Linked DNA regions of Homo sapiens. The protein of the gene in region 3 purifies or fractionates together with the protein of the main gene of each other region. This does not show direct contact. Each region holds a gene or a part of one and is shown on either strand. Other genes may lie near its edges.

The links. The genes of interacting proteins can lie anywhere in the genome.
Region 1: the proteins of SH3GL3 (region 3) and MAT2B purify together in Homo sapiens (affinity purification with mass spectrometry; one large-scale study listed by BioGRID and IntAct). This does not show direct contact.
Region 2: the proteins of SH3GL3 (region 3) and PPP6R3 purify together in Homo sapiens (affinity purification with mass spectrometry; one large-scale study listed by BioGRID and IntAct). This does not show direct contact.
Region 4: the proteins of SH3GL3 (region 3) and RBFOX3 purify together in Homo sapiens (affinity purification with mass spectrometry; one large-scale study listed by BioGRID and IntAct). This does not show direct contact.

The regions. Positions count from the first base shown.
Region 1 is NC_000005.10:163,515,619-163,519,854, forward strand, and holds the end of MAT2B (methionine adenosyltransferase 2 subunit beta), read left to right. Parts: intron 1-899; coding exon 900-1,093; intron 1,094-1,942; coding exon 1,943-2,056; intron 2,057-2,574; coding exon 2,575-2,745; 3' UTR 2,746-3,736; downstream 3,737-4,236.
Region 2 is NC_000011.10:68,568,752-68,572,251, forward strand, and holds part of PPP6R3 (serine/threonine-protein phosphatase 6 regulatory subunit 3), read left to right. Parts: intron 1-996; coding exon 997-1,146; intron 1,147-2,288; coding exon 2,289-2,353; intron 2,354-3,500.
Region 3 is NC_000015.10:83,565,841-83,569,340, forward strand, and holds part of SH3GL3 (endophilin-A3), read left to right. Parts: intron 1-2,688; coding exon 2,689-2,832; intron 2,833-3,500. UniProt on the Homo sapiens protein: Implicated in endocytosis. May recruit other proteins to membranes with high curvature.
Region 4 is NC_000017.11:79,111,052-79,114,551, forward strand, and holds part of RBFOX3 (RNA binding protein fox-1 homolog 3), read right to left. Parts: intron 1-3,500. UniProt on the Homo sapiens protein: Pre-mRNA alternative splicing regulator. Regulates alternative splicing of RBFOX2 to enhance the production of mRNA species that are targeted for nonsense-mediated decay (NMD).

The sequences.
Region 1 (4,236 bases), on a different chromosome or scaffold from region 3:
TTAATCTAGCATCCAGTCAAAGACTATTCATTGCATTCAGTTGTCATGATAAGTTTTATTTTTAATGATCATATTAATGTAGGATTTATATATATAAAAAAAACTAGTCCAAATGACAGAAGATACTTAACAAATGTGGTTTTGCCTTTTTCTTTTTTTTTTTTTTTTTTTTTTTTTTGAGACAGGGTCTCAGTCGCCTGGGCTGGAGTGCAGTAGGGTGAACACAGCTCACTATAGCCTTGACCTCCTTGGCTTAAGCAATCCTCCCACCACGAACGGCTAATTTTTTTACATTTTGTAGAGACGAGGTCTCACTGTGTTGTCCACGCTGGTCTCGAACTCCTGGGCTCAAGTAGTCCTCCTGCCTTGGACTCCCAAGTGCTGGAATTACAGTCATGAGCCCCACCGCACTCAGCCTTTGACTGTTTTTAATTTTATTTTTGAGGCAGGGTCTCACTCTGTTGCCCAGGCTGGAGTACAGTGGTGCAGTCATAGCTCATTGCAACCTTGAACTTCAGGCTCAAGAGATCCTTTTGCCTTACTCAGCCTCCCAAGTAGCTGGGACTACAGGCATGTGCCACCATGCCCAGCTAATTTTCATTTTAATTTTTTGTAGAGACGGAGTTTTGCTATGATGCCCGGGCTGATCTTGAACTCCTGGCTTCAAGTGATCCTTCTGCCTTGGCCTCCCAAAGTGCTAGCATTATAGGCATGAGTCACTGTGCCTGGCCTTGAATATTTTTACATTGCGTTGTCACAAGTGAGCTGTGTCATTTTGGTATATTTTAATTAAAAGGCAAGGTTTCTACTTTGATATTATTTAAATCCACACCCTTGTATCTTACATCAAAATTTAAGAATCAGTCAGCTTTAAATTATTTGCTTTTATTCTTCTCTAGGAGCTGCTGTTTTGAGGATTCCTATTCTGTATGGGGAAGTTGAAAAGCTCGAAGAAAGTGCTGTGACTGTTATGTTTGATAAAGTGCAGTTCAGCAACAAGTCAGCAAACATGGATCACTGGCAGCAGAGGTTCCCCACACATGTCAAAGATGTGGCCACTGTGTGCCGGCAGCTAGCAGAGAAGAGAATGCTGGTAAGAAGGATTCCTGAGTCCTGTCTTAGCGAAGGTCCGCTTTGTCTTTTCCATGCTTGAACTTTCACAGCTGTACTTGGAGTGTTACTGAGTGAAAGCCAAAAGTGCTTTTTTAAAACTAGGAGACCAAACAAAAGTAGTTTACATATACACTGTATTCATGAAGAATAAAAATATTATGCTCTTCTGTTTGAATTTATTTCTTATGTACTATAGATCCCATCATTTCTTTTATTGCAAAGTGTTAGGAAACTTCAAAATAATCATCTAAGGTCTTTTAAGAAGATACTCTTTGGGGGCTGGGCGTGATGGCTCACACCTGTAATCCCAGCACATTTGAAAAAGTTGGTATTAAATATAATATCCATACAAAGAAAGATGAGACTGATTTAGTTTAGAATATTAATAGGATGACCACAGTTTTTTAATATATGAGAATTATATTTTGTAATATATAACATGACAATATTTAAGAAAGTTTAGCTCAACTTGAAAAATGGTTCTATTAAGTTTTTGTTGTAGCTTGGGATAATTAAAAATACTCATTAAATTGTACTGTTTTCATAAAAATTTGTAATGCTTTTTTATATTCCCACTAATTAAGTAAAATTGGAGCCTTTTTTTGATTTTAAAAATTCTTAAGGTTTAAATTCTAGAAATTGCTCTTTTAAGTGTTTTGCTAAGAGTATTAGTAGGAATTTGATTTTAGATATCTTGTGGAGACCTTTCCAGAAAAAGAGGGTTGCCTTTTAGTTCCTGGACCTTATTTTAAGTAAGCTTTTTGGTCAAACCTATTCTACTCAGCTCAAAAAGTTGAAACTATTGAATTTATTGTGTCATCGTTCTTAGGATCCATCAATTAAGGGAACCTTTCACTGGTCTGGCAATGAACAGATGACTAAGTATGAAATGGCATGTGCAATTGCAGATGCCTTCAACCTCCCCAGCAGTCACTTAAGACCTGTAAGTACATGGCTGTAAAAACCTTTAGATCCATTGCTATGGTATATATTATTGCTGTGTTGGGTAACTTCATTTCTCAGTACTAATCAAAGTGAACTTTGCTTGTATGCTGGCTGTTCATAGTGCTACTTTTCTCTAAATTATCATCTGTAGAGAAGATCATGAGTATTGAAGTTTGTAGAAAATGTATTATTGTCTTGATCATGACAGGCATTTGGTTTATTTTTCCAGGGATGATCAAATCAGATTTCTTACACTAAGAGCAAAAATAAGTAGCAAATATAAAACCTCAAAATGGCCAGGCACAATGGCTCATGCCTGTAATCCCAACACTTTGGGAGGCTGACGCAGGAGGATCCCTTGAGCCCAGGAATTTGAGACTAGCCTGGGCAATGGAGGGAGATCTCATCTCTGTTTAAAAATATATACATATTTAAAAAAAGGTCAGGGGGAACAAAGCCCTCAAAATATAGCCTTTCACTTACTTTTGATTTTTTTGTGTTTATCTTTCTTTAAAGATTACTGACAGCCCTGTCCTAGGAGCACAACGTCCGAGAAATGCTCAGCTTGACTGCTCCAAATTGGAGACCTTGGGCATTGGCCAACGAACACCATTTCGAATTGGAATCAAAGAATCACTTTGGCCTTTCCTCATTGACAAGAGATGGAGACAAACGGTCTTTCATTAGTTTATTTGTGTTGGGTTCTTTTTTTTTTTTAAATGAAAAGTATAGTATGTGGCACTTTTTAAAGAACAAAGGAAATAGTTTTGTATGAGTACTTTAATTGTGACTCTTAGGATCTTTCAGGTAAATGATGCTCTTGCACTAGTGAAATTGTCTAAAGAAACTAAAGGGCAGTCATGCCCTGTTTGCAGTAATTTTTCTTTTTATCATTTTGTTTGTCCTGGCTAAACTTGGAGTTTGAGTATAGTAAATTATGATCCTTAAATATTTGAGAGTCAGGATGAAGCAGATCTGCTGTAGACTTTTCAGATGAAATTGTTCATTCTCGTAACCTCCATATTTTCAGGATTTTTGAAGCTGTTGACCTTTTCATGTTGATTATTTTAAATTGTGTGAAATAGTATAAAAATCATTGGTGTTCATTATTTGCTTTGCCTGAGCTCAGATCAAAATGTTTGAAGAAAGGAACTTTATTTTTGCAAGTTACGTACAGTTTTTATGCTTGAGATATTTCAACATGTTATGTATATTGGAACTTCTACAGCTTGATGCCTCCTGCTTTTATAGCAGTTTATGGGGAGCACTTGAAAGAGCGTGTGTACATGTATTTTTTTTCTAGGCAAACATTGAATGCAAACGTGTATTTTTTTAATATAAATATATAACTGTCCTTTTCATCCCATGTTGCCGCTAAGTGATATTTCATATGTGTGGTTATACTCATAATAATGGGCCTTGTAAGTCTTTTCACCATTCATGAATAATAATAAATATGTACTGCTGGCATGTAATGCTTAGTTTTCTTGTATTTACTTCTTTTTTTAAATGTAAGGACCAAACTTCTAAACTAATTGTTCTTTTGTTGCTTTAATTTTTAAAAATTACATTCTTCTGATGTAACATGTGATACATACAAAAGAATATAGTTTAATATGTATTGAAATAAAACACAATAAAATTAACACTTGATCCAGAATGTTAACTTACCACCCCATCCTAGAATGTTACAGTTACTGTATCTATTTGTGGGAACGGATTTGTTTTTAACTAAAAATTAATAGCTATATAATCTTGTTACATTATACAGTTGACCCTTGAACGGTGTGGGTTTGGGGTATCAACCTTGCACAGTCTAAAATCCACTATAACTCTGGACTCCCCAAATACTTAATTAGTAAAAACCTGCTGTTGACCAGAAGCCTTACTGATAAACATAGTCATTTAACATATTTCTATCTTCTGTGTATTACATACTGTATTCTTAAAGTAGCCTAGAGAAAAGAAAATATTATTAAGAAAATCTCAAGGAAGGGAAAATATATTTACTATTCATTAAGTGGAAGTAGATTATCATAAAGTTTTTTTTTTTTTTTTTTAGACAAGGTCTCGCTCTGTCGCATAGGCTGGGGTACAGTGGTGCATTCTCAGCTCACTGCAACCTCCGCCTCCTGGGTTCAAGCAATTCTCCTCCCTCAGCCACTCGAGTAGCTGGGA
Region 2 (3,500 bases), on a different chromosome or scaffold from region 3:
ATCAAAATGAAATTCTTACAATTTTTTTTTTTTTTTGAGATGGAGTCTGGCTCAGTCGCCCAGGCTGGAGTGCAGTGATCTTGGCTCACTGCAAGCTCCGCCTCCTGGGTTCACGCCATTCTCCTGCCTCAGCCTCCTGAGTAGCTGGGGCCACAGGCGCCCGCCACCACACCCAGCGATTTTTTTGTATTTTTAGTAGAGACGGGGTTTCACCGTGTTAGGATGGTCTTGATCTCCTGACCTCGTGATCCGCCCGCCTCGGCCTCCCAGAGTGCAGAGATTACAGGCATGAGCCACCACGCCTGGCCTCTTATAAATTTTTTTGAAAATTATAGAAAATTTACCACGCTAACTATTTGTGTTAGTTGCTTTGAAGAGAAAAAAGATACTCCCTTTCTCTTGGAGAAACGTACTCTTGTCTTTGTATGTTTGTTGTTGGTTTTTTACTAGATTCCATACCAGTTCTGGCATGTCAGATAAGCAGATAGCACGCCATTTAGGCTCTAAAGCAATACTTCACATCCCCATTTAGTCCTCGTTATTTATGAGGGATACCTTCCAAGACTCCTTTGGATGCCTGAAACCACAGCTATCGAACCCTATATATACTATGTGTTTTTCCTATACATACCTGTGACAAAGTTTAATTTATAAATTAAGCACAGGAAGAGATTAATAATAACTAATAATAAAGTAGAACAATTATAAATCTATACTGTAATGAATGTTATGTGAATGTCATCTCTTGGATTAGCATGTCTTACTGTATTATACTCACCTATTTTCAGATCATGGTTGACTGTGGGTAACTGAAACCACAGAAAATGAAACTGTGGTTATGCAAGTACTAATGTGAACTCAGGTTCCTTTTAATTGGTCCTTTTGGACTGAGAGCACATCATTTTTACTTTATTAAATCACTGTTCTGTAAATGTATTTAAGTATTGGCTTAAACATTGAGGTAACCGAATAAAACATGGTTTTTCTTTTTTGTAGAACATGTTCTTCAAGTATACATGGAATAACTTTTTGCATACACAAGTGGAAATTTGTATTGCACTGATTCTTGCAAGTCCTTTTGAAAACACAGAAAATGCCACAATTACCGATCAAGACTCCACTGGTGATAATTTGTTATTAAAACATGTAAGCTTATTTGGTCTCGTTTTTCTCCCACTCTCTCCTGGTTATAGCAGTTTTCCACTTGACTGTGATGTGAATTGAGGTTTAAAGGGCTTGAGGTTAGATTTCAGAGTCTAAATATTTGACAATCATGTGTTCGTTTCACTTTTAACATATAAATCATTATATAAATCAAGTACTGGACAAATAACTATTAAATGAACAGTCTTGTAAGAAAAAAGCTAAGTGGCCTCCTTATTTGGTAAAATTAATAGGTTTGAAGATATATAAATTCTTTGATGATTTGAAGAATCATAGAAATTTAAATACTATGGAAAACATTTGCACTATTATTTGGCTGACCAGAGTGTAGTTTCTTTGCTGAATACGTGACTGAAAGTCAGGAGAACTGAGTTCTTTGTGATGTTGAGAGTCTTCCTGGGGTCTCTTTTTCTCTTCTGTCAAATATGAGATAATTTTACTAAGTCAGTCTTCAGATTTTTTCTTGCTTGGTAGTTCTATGGTACTTTTAAAATTTCTAGCCCACACTTGGTTTACTCGCAAACCTAAAATGTAGAAAAGGCTAGCTTGGAACAGCCAAGTTGATGGGAAAGACAAATGACACCTGAGAAGAACTAGCCCTGCACATTCCAGTATTGCAGCCTACAGCAGTTGTCACTGACTTGCAGACTTTGGGCAAAACCCACCTGTTTTTAATATTAATGCAGTAATGTTAGTTCATCTGGAAGTAAGACGTGCTCACATTTTAAAAGTACAAGCATTACTTTGGATTCTAAGTTAAATTTTTGCCAAGGCATAGTTTTCTTTATTCCATTTTAATTTAGCTCAGGTTTTATATTTCTGTTCTGAATTTTCACAGCTAATAAAACCTGGCTTTCCTTTATAGTTAACTATAGGTAGTTAACTGCACTACCTATAATACTGAGTTTCCTGTAGATGTTCTGTGGAGGGTGTGGATCCTGATTTGAATCTCTGTAGTGTTGTGGGTGTCTGCAGTAGATTGATGATCACATTGCATTTGGCTTAGTAACATTTAGCTTGCTAGATTATGCATACTACTATTCTCTTTAACCTAGAGTTCTGTTTCACTTTAAAGTTTTGATGCTTTGAAGTATTAACTGGAATATTCTTTTTTTTTTTTTCAGCTTTTCCAAAAATGTCAATTAATAGAACGAATACTTGAAGCCTGGGAAATGAATGAGAAGAAACAGTAAGTAAATTGTTTTTTTGAAAGGAATTCAGTTTGGTTGGTAATATGAGGAAAATAATACCTCCTTGCCCTAGTCAGAAAAAAATGGAAATAATTACATGATACTGGCCATTTTACAATTTAAACTTTTCCCCAGATTATTTCATTGTAACAGTTGTTTTTATAATACTAATAATTTCTTGTTAGGTCCTCTTGTTTTTGGGGCAAAACAAGTGAGTTCGGAGTGTTCCCCACCTCTGTGCTGCCTTTGAAACTTCCTGGTCCTTTTTGAATGGCTACTGTTCTAAGAGTTATAAGGTTAAAGTTAAGTCCTTGATGATGTGACTTAGTGTATTTGTCCTGGTCACCTTATGCTCAGAACAGAAGGTATCACGTACATATTTTCATTGTAGAGAAGAGTTGCTTTGTACAGGGACCTAGAGGAAAAAAATTGCTCAGTGTTTTCTTTTTAGAAAATGTTTGTTAGCTGATTGGCAAGGTTATGTGAAGTATTAGTTGATACATGTAAGTAGCTTTGTTACACAAAACGTTTTCTTACAGGTGTTGTCTGTAACAGCATTCCTCTCTAGTGCCCTGGAAGCCTTTATGTCACCCCGTAGATTCTGAAGCATGGTGGCATAAGGGCGTGTTTGGGAAACACTCTGAAGGCATGCTTCTGTGTTTGTTTTTAAGACAGGTTTATTGAGATATAATTCTCATATGGTAAAGCTCATTTTAGGTGTACATTCCTAGGAATTCTGACTGATGCCTGAAGTCACCATCACCACAATCAAGACATTTCTGTCACCCCCAAAATTTCTCTCATGGTCCTTTGTAGTTGATCATTTCCCAGCATTCTTGTTATGTGTCTCTGTGTCTCCAGGAAAGCTAGATGACTCTTGGGAGTCAGCCTTACTTTGTGAGGTTTGATTTTTTTTTTTTAAATCGTTTAATAAGCACTGCTACTAGGGTTTTGATTTGGCTTCATGTGGGAAATTGGCATTTTGTTTGTTTGTTTGTGGCAAGGGGCTAGTATTGGTAGACCTCAGATACATTCTTCCAAATGGAGCTCTTTGGAGATGCTGTTTGTGGCCCAGTTGACATCTCTGGTTATATGTCTGACTCCGTCTTGGCTTCTCTGTGTCCTTCCCAACCTCCAGTCTTCTTG
Region 3 (3,500 bases):
GAGTTCCTGTGATTCCCTTGACTGTAGGAATCAGCACAAACCTAACCATTTGAAAATTGAGAAAGTAAAAATTTAAGAATATAAATTTTATCAGGTGTATCCAGGCAGGTCTAAAGTTCTTTACAATTGTATTGATGATAATAGCTTTGAAAACCATAAAAATATATCTTCTCCTCCCTGGCCACATCAGTGATTGAAATCAGCCACACAAATTTCTTTTCCTGATATATCAGTCAACAAATATTTAATATGTGCTTTCTCTGCACTAGAGGATTTCGGGGTGCTGGAGTACACTATGAAATCAGACAGATACTTCACCCTCAACCAGCTGACTCTTGAATGGGATAAGGAAGTGTTGGCCAACAATAAAAGTGTCACCACTGGCTAGAGGTCTCTGGTTATTCCTAGAGAAGAGGCAGCCCTAGCAACCTCTTATCCAGTTTAATGGCTCTCACCCACATACCTGCTGCATCCCACATCCCCCTCCAACAGTGGGAAAGATGGGCAGAGAGAGAGAGAGAGAGAGTGTGTGTGTGTGTGTGTGTGTGTGTGTGTGTGTGTGTGTGTAGTGTGTGAGAGTGAAGCCTTTGGGCTTGGGGACCTGGAGGATAAATGCTTTGAGGATAAATGTGAGGTTCAAAAGTCCGGCACTGGCCAGGCACAATGGCTTATGCCTGTAATCCCAGCACTTTGGGAGGCCAAGGCATGATGATTGCTTGAAGCCAAGAGTTCAAGACCAGCCTGGGCAATGTAGCAAGACTCTATGTCTACAAAACATTTTCAAAATTAGCCAGGTGTGGTAACACGTCTGTAGTCCTATTTTTACTCAGGAGGCTGAGGTGGGAGGATCGCTTGAACCCATGAGTTTGTGGCCACAGTGAGCCATGATCATACCACTGCACTACAGCCTGGGCAACAGTTGTTGTTTCAAAACAACAACAAAAAAGGCTGGCACTGTGAATGTCAGGTGAATGTGAGTGGCACTCACAGCTGGCACGGGAATGTCACTACTCACAGTGCATTCTATTGCTGGAGATGCAGAATTAGGCTCAACCCAGACCGATGGAATCACTCTACATTTTAACAAGATCCTTGGGTTATTTACATACACATTAAAGTTTTGGAGGCATTGATTTAAAATACATTAAAAATAGTACAAAATTATTAAAGTAGGAAAAAAAGTGTATCTCTTGACTATCTAAAAGTATCTCAAATACCACAAACTAGTATGTGATTCACTCTCTCACCTACAGGATGAAATCTCAAATCCTTAGCTTGGTGTTCAATTCATAGTCACATTTTCCCATAGCTATCTCCCACTTTGTCCTGTATTAATAGCATTTTAGGTCAAACCAGCCTACTCCTTGTCCACTGATTATGCCACAGTATTCCCTCTTCTACACGTTACTGACACCATTCTCTGTACTTTTTAGGGCATCTTTCCATCTTTCTTCAGCATATTGCCGCCTTTCCCTTGCCCTGCACCACACTGGACTTTATTTTCATAATTATGTCCTGTATATTCTGCCTCCCAGTAACTAGACTTTGAGCTCCTTGAGGGCAAAGCCTGTCTCTGGAGTCCCAGTAATGAGCACAGTGTGTTGTTGCACAGGGCCCAGTGCAACAATGAGTAAATACTCATTGCCTGAGTCAGAGGAAGGAAAGGAAGGTAAGACGCAGTGATGCGCATCACCTCCCTAGGGAGCAGAGGCTGAGCTGCACCTTGGGACCAGCCACACAAGGCTAGTGTTCACTAGGGGTGGGGTGGTCTGTCCCCTCCTATGATTCTGCCTCCTAAACAGCAGCACCTGCCTGCCATAATACTGAAAATCATTAGGCTCAATCAGTCCTTGGGAGCAGAGTGTGTGTGTGTGTGCGTGCGCGCGCATGTGGTGTGTGTTAATGACCAGTTGGTTGTTTGAAATATCCTCCTCGGCAATTCTATTTTTGTTTACATTTAAACAAACAAACAAAAAGCATGTCAGTGTCACACAGGTGTCAGTGTCTGACTTCACGTGTCAGCAACTGCAAGCTTTCCAAAGGGTCTCACTCGAGGGGTGGTGCTCAGGAAAGCCTGGTCACTATTATTTCAAGTCAGCAATGTGCCCCATCATTTCTTTTTTTTTTTCTTTCTTTCTTTCTTTCTTTTTTTTTTTTTTGAGACAAAGTCTCGCTCTTGTCCCCCAGGCTAGAGTGCAATGGCGCGATCTTGGCTCACTGCAACCTCCGCCTCCCGGGTTCAAGCAATTCTCCTGCCTCAGCCTCCCGAGTAGCTAGGATTACAGGCATGTGCCACCACGCCCAGCTAATTTTTTGTATTTTTAGTAGAGACAGGGTTTCTCCATGTTGGTCAGGCTGGTCTTGAACTCCTGGCCTCAGGTGATCTGCCGGCCTCGGCCTCCCAAAGTGTTGGGATTACAGGTGTGAGCCACTGCGCCCAGCCGATGTGCACCATCATTTCTATGGTTCATCGTGGCTGCGGAACAGTGCACTTAGCACCCACCTTGGTAAAGAACCTAGAAAATTACCTGAGAAAATTAAATAGTTCACACACAATTGTTTCAGGCCTCAGGTCTCTGGCATTTTGTTTAAGGTGACCTCAGTTTTGGCAGCTGCGTTTATTAAATTCTATGTACCTGTCACTCCACCTTGTAACTTTAAAGAATTACAAATGACAATGTTTTTAAGCATACAGAGCTAAGCTAGGAATGCTGAACACTGTGTCGAAGATCCGAGGGCAGGTGAAGACCACAGGATACCCGCAGACGGAAGGCTTGCTGGGGGACTGTATGCTGAAATACGGGAAGGAGCTCGGGGAAGACTCCACCTTTGGTGAGTTATTCAGAGATCAGCTGGGGGAGCTGAGAACTCCTCCAGTATGGTTTTAGGTTATACACAAACCCTTCAGTCTAACAACCTTTGTTATTTTTCCATATTACCAAAGTAATACATGTTAATTGCAGGAGGTTTAGAAAACATAGGTAAGTAAAATAAAGAAAAATGCTAACATCACCCATAATCCCATATCCACCGATAGGCCCAATTAAACTCTGTTGTGTATCTTTTTTTTTTTTTTTTTTTTAGACAAAGTCTATGCCCAGGCTGGAGTGCAGTGGCGCGATCTTGGCTCACTGCAGCCTCCACCTCCCAGGTTCAAACGATTCTCGTGCCTTAGCCTCCCGAGTAGCTGGATTACAGGCTCAAGCCACCATGCCTGACTAATGTTTTGTATTTTAAATAGAGACAGGGTTTCGCCATTTTGGCCAGGCTGGTTTTGAACTCCTGACCTCAAGTGATCCGCCTGCCTCGGCCTCCCAAACTGCTGGGATTACAGGAGTGAGCCACTGCACTTGGCTTGTTGTGTATCTTTTATGCCTTGTTTATTCTTATATGTATTCATATGTACTTTTAAAAACTACAGTAAGGCTATAGTACATATACTCTTTGGTAACACTGACTATATAATGATCCATATCGTAAAATAATTAATCTTCCATGAT
Region 4 (3,500 bases), on a different chromosome or scaffold from region 3:
AGTTATAGATGAGGTGGTCCAAATGGAAGATCAGGGCAAGTGCGGGAGTTTCCGAGGAGGCTCAGGCCCGACGGACAGCAGAAAGGACAGAGGTTCATCCTGGGGCTGCAGGTCACTGGGCAGAGAGGCCTCCAGGGACCTGGGCGCACAGGCATCTATGCCTGCAGTGAAGCCAGGGGTGCAGAGCCCAGGTCCCCAGCAGGCAGTGAGGGAGGTGCTGGCCCCTCAGACATCAGGCCCTTGCGGCCCACGTGGGGTCCCTTCTGGCAGGTGGAGGAGCCCACGTGGGCTCTGGAAAACACCAGTCTCATCCCGTCTCCCTCTACCTGGCTGGCCCTCCACAGTGACCCTCCGTGCTTTGTCTGGCATTTTTTTTATCTGCGTGCTAATCTCTCTCTCTTTTTCTCAGAGTTTTGCTCTGTCGCCCAGGCTGGAGTGCAGCGGCGTGATCTCAGCTCACTGCAACCTCCACCTCCTGGGTTCAAGTGATTCTCCTGCCTCAGCCTCCCGGGCAGCTGGGATTACAGGCACGAGCCACCATGCCCGATTAATTTTTGTATTTTTGTAGAGACAGGGTTCCACCATCTTGGCCAGGCTGGTCTGGAAGTCCTGACTTCGTGATCCACCTGCCTCGGCCTCCCGAAGTGCTGGGGTGACAGGCGTGAGCCAACATGCCCGGCCCGTTAGCAAGCTGAGGGTCCCTTGAGCACAAAGACTCCCAAGGGCCCACAGTACTGGCACCTGCGTGACCCCGAGTGAGTGAATACATGCTCCAGATGGTGACCCCTGCTGGGGAACACAGACCCTGGGGGTGGCTCAAGGTAGTGAGATGGGGTCCCCCGGTCCTTCCGCAGCCCCTCATCGCACTCTGTACCCTTTGCTGCTTTTGTCCAGAGAAGGCAGGTGATGTCGTGGTGAGCGGTGAGAGAAACGGAGCCTATGTGCAGGTGTGCGTGCCCCTTGTGGGTTCTTGTCACATGTCCCTTCCCATCACGGATGAGCAGAGACGCCCCTGCCCCACCAGGAAGGAGCCTCCGTATTTCTGGACGGTGAAAAGAGGTGTCCTGCTCAGAGGGGAGGAGCCTTCCTGGGGAATGATGTAGCTGGAAAGTCACTGGGGGTGGTCGGGACCCACCCGAGGGTATCGAGACCACAAAAATCAGTGCACGCTCCGCCTTCTGTGGGAAGTCTCAGTGTCGGTGAGGGACCGGTGGCCCCCAGGAACCCCATGTTTCTCTCTGCAGGGTCAGCTGTGCTTCTGTGACTAGGGGTTGAGGGGTGCATCCCACCTGGGTGGTGGAGGTGTCGGGAAAGGCCCTGAGTTGGATGAACACGGACTTCCCACCAATTGCTGGCTGGAAACCCTCCTCGGGGGAGGAGGAGCAGGAAGAGGCCTCGTGGTTCCAGAAATTCCAGGAAGGCCTTTCCGGAGCTGGGGCCCAGGCTGTCTTTGAGGATCCTGGGGTGGAGGAGACGGAGAGGTCTGAGGCATGGGGATGGGCTGCAGGGGCCACTGCTCTCTCCCATCGACGCCATCAGCCCCAGGTCCTAGAACGGAACAGGCTGCCTGTGTGGGCCCCCGGGCCTGGACAGGACCCTGCCGTCTAGGGGCCGGCTCTGCCACAGCTACCAGTGGGGTGGGTGATGTGGGGGCTGGACAGGCACTCCAAGCTCCCCCTCTCCACTGCCCTGGCCACACCAACTGCCAGGGCAGCCCATGCTCACCAGCAGAAGGAAGTCCCCTTGGGCGAGAGGGCGGGAAGCCCCAGTGGCCTCTGGGTGGCATCTGGGTCCAGGGAGCGTCCAGGGGGTTGTGTGCCCTGACCTGGTGCCAACCTGGGCAGCAGGCTCTCGGGGGGGGGGTGGGCTGGGTAGGACTTCAGGGATGGTGGGGAAGGAAGAGACCAGGGTACTTGGTGGCTGCACACGGGCCCTCGAGTGCCCCGGGAGCTCAGGAAGACACTCTGACCTAGGCAGGTCTGGACCAAAGCTCTGAACTCATCCCACTTCCTATCCCGAAGATCTAGACCACAATACCAGGCTGCTTGGGGCAGGGCCAAGGGGAGGCTCGAGTGAGCTGAAAGGGCCCTGCTGATGACCCAGGGACAGGGTCTGGGGACACCTGAGCCAGCAGGGAGGCGTTCGGCCTTCAGCTGTGAGTGCCGGGCAGCCTCTGGGAGGAAGGAGCTCCTGGAATCTAGAACACCCTCTCCAGCTGCCTTCCAAGGTAGGAAGGCTCTGCATGAACAAATACTCCAAGGTTGGGGAGCGCATGGCCTCTGAGGAGGCCCAGGTCTTTGTTCTTCGTGGGGCACCACGCCGATGCCGTAACTTCTGCCTGCAGCCCTGCCCTGGGTGCAGGTCATGGAGGATGACTCTCTCCTCTGGGTCCCTGGATGAAAGATCTGCAGACCATGACCCTGAACCCTCTGCCAGACCTGAGAGACCCCAGCCTGAAGAAAGGAAGGTCAAGGCCGTCTGTCCATCCTCTGGGCTCTGGGTGCTTCCCACCTGGACACGCTTCCTGGGAGGCTCTGGAGGCTAATAACTGGGTGGTGAGACTCCCATCCTCCTGGTTGGAGAGTACTTCATTGGATGCAGCATTCACCTTTTCAGCAGCTGCTGCTCACTCGGGGATTCTCTCCATGGTCTGTGGCCTCTCACGGGCAAGCCAGACCCAAGCCAGCCTCTGTTTCTGACTTTCCTGTCCTTGCGTGGCAGGAACTAGGGGACAGGGCTGGGTCCTTTCTTCTTTGTAGCCTCAGTGCCAATTCAGTGCCTGGAACACGGCAGGTGCTCAGCAAATGTCTGCCGAGTGAAGGAAGACTTTATGTGTGTCCTGGTAGGCTGTGTCTGGTGGCCCCAGGTGTCCAGGAGGCATCTGGCCTCGGTTCTGTTGTTCAGTTAGAGTGCTAGGTCCGTCCCCAAGCTGTGTTATCTGTGTGTCTGACCCTCCTGCTTCTGGTTTTCTTCTGGGACGAACCCCTGAGGCTCACCATGAGAGACCCCCTCGTCTGTCCATAAGGTGGCTGTCAGAGGTTTGAGCAGATAAGCTGTGTCTACTGGAGTCAGTCAGAAGGAGACCCAGCCTGCTCTAGCGTGACTTGTTTATGGTGAACCCGGCTTGGCTCCTGGGATCATCTCTGTCTTTTCTAAGCACACACAGGGCGTGGGTTTGATGAATAAGAACCAGAGCAGACAGGGAAGCTTGGCCCCTGCTTCTACCACCCTGGGGCCTGGCCTTTTCCATGTGTGTCCTGTGGCTGTAGGAACCCTGGGTATCAGGATGCTGGGGGCGCTGGAAAGGCTGATGGTCTCGGGGCAGATTCGGGCTGGGCGGGGCTCCAAGCAGGGAGGAAAGGCACCGCCTGGGTGCCAGATGAGGGTCGGGTCCAGCCCAGGAGGTGGCTGGGTGGGCTCTCTCGGCAGAGGGCCTGGGTGACGCTGGAGGAAGCCCCTGCCCACACATGCACCGGGGGAAGGCTCCTATCTGCGTCCAC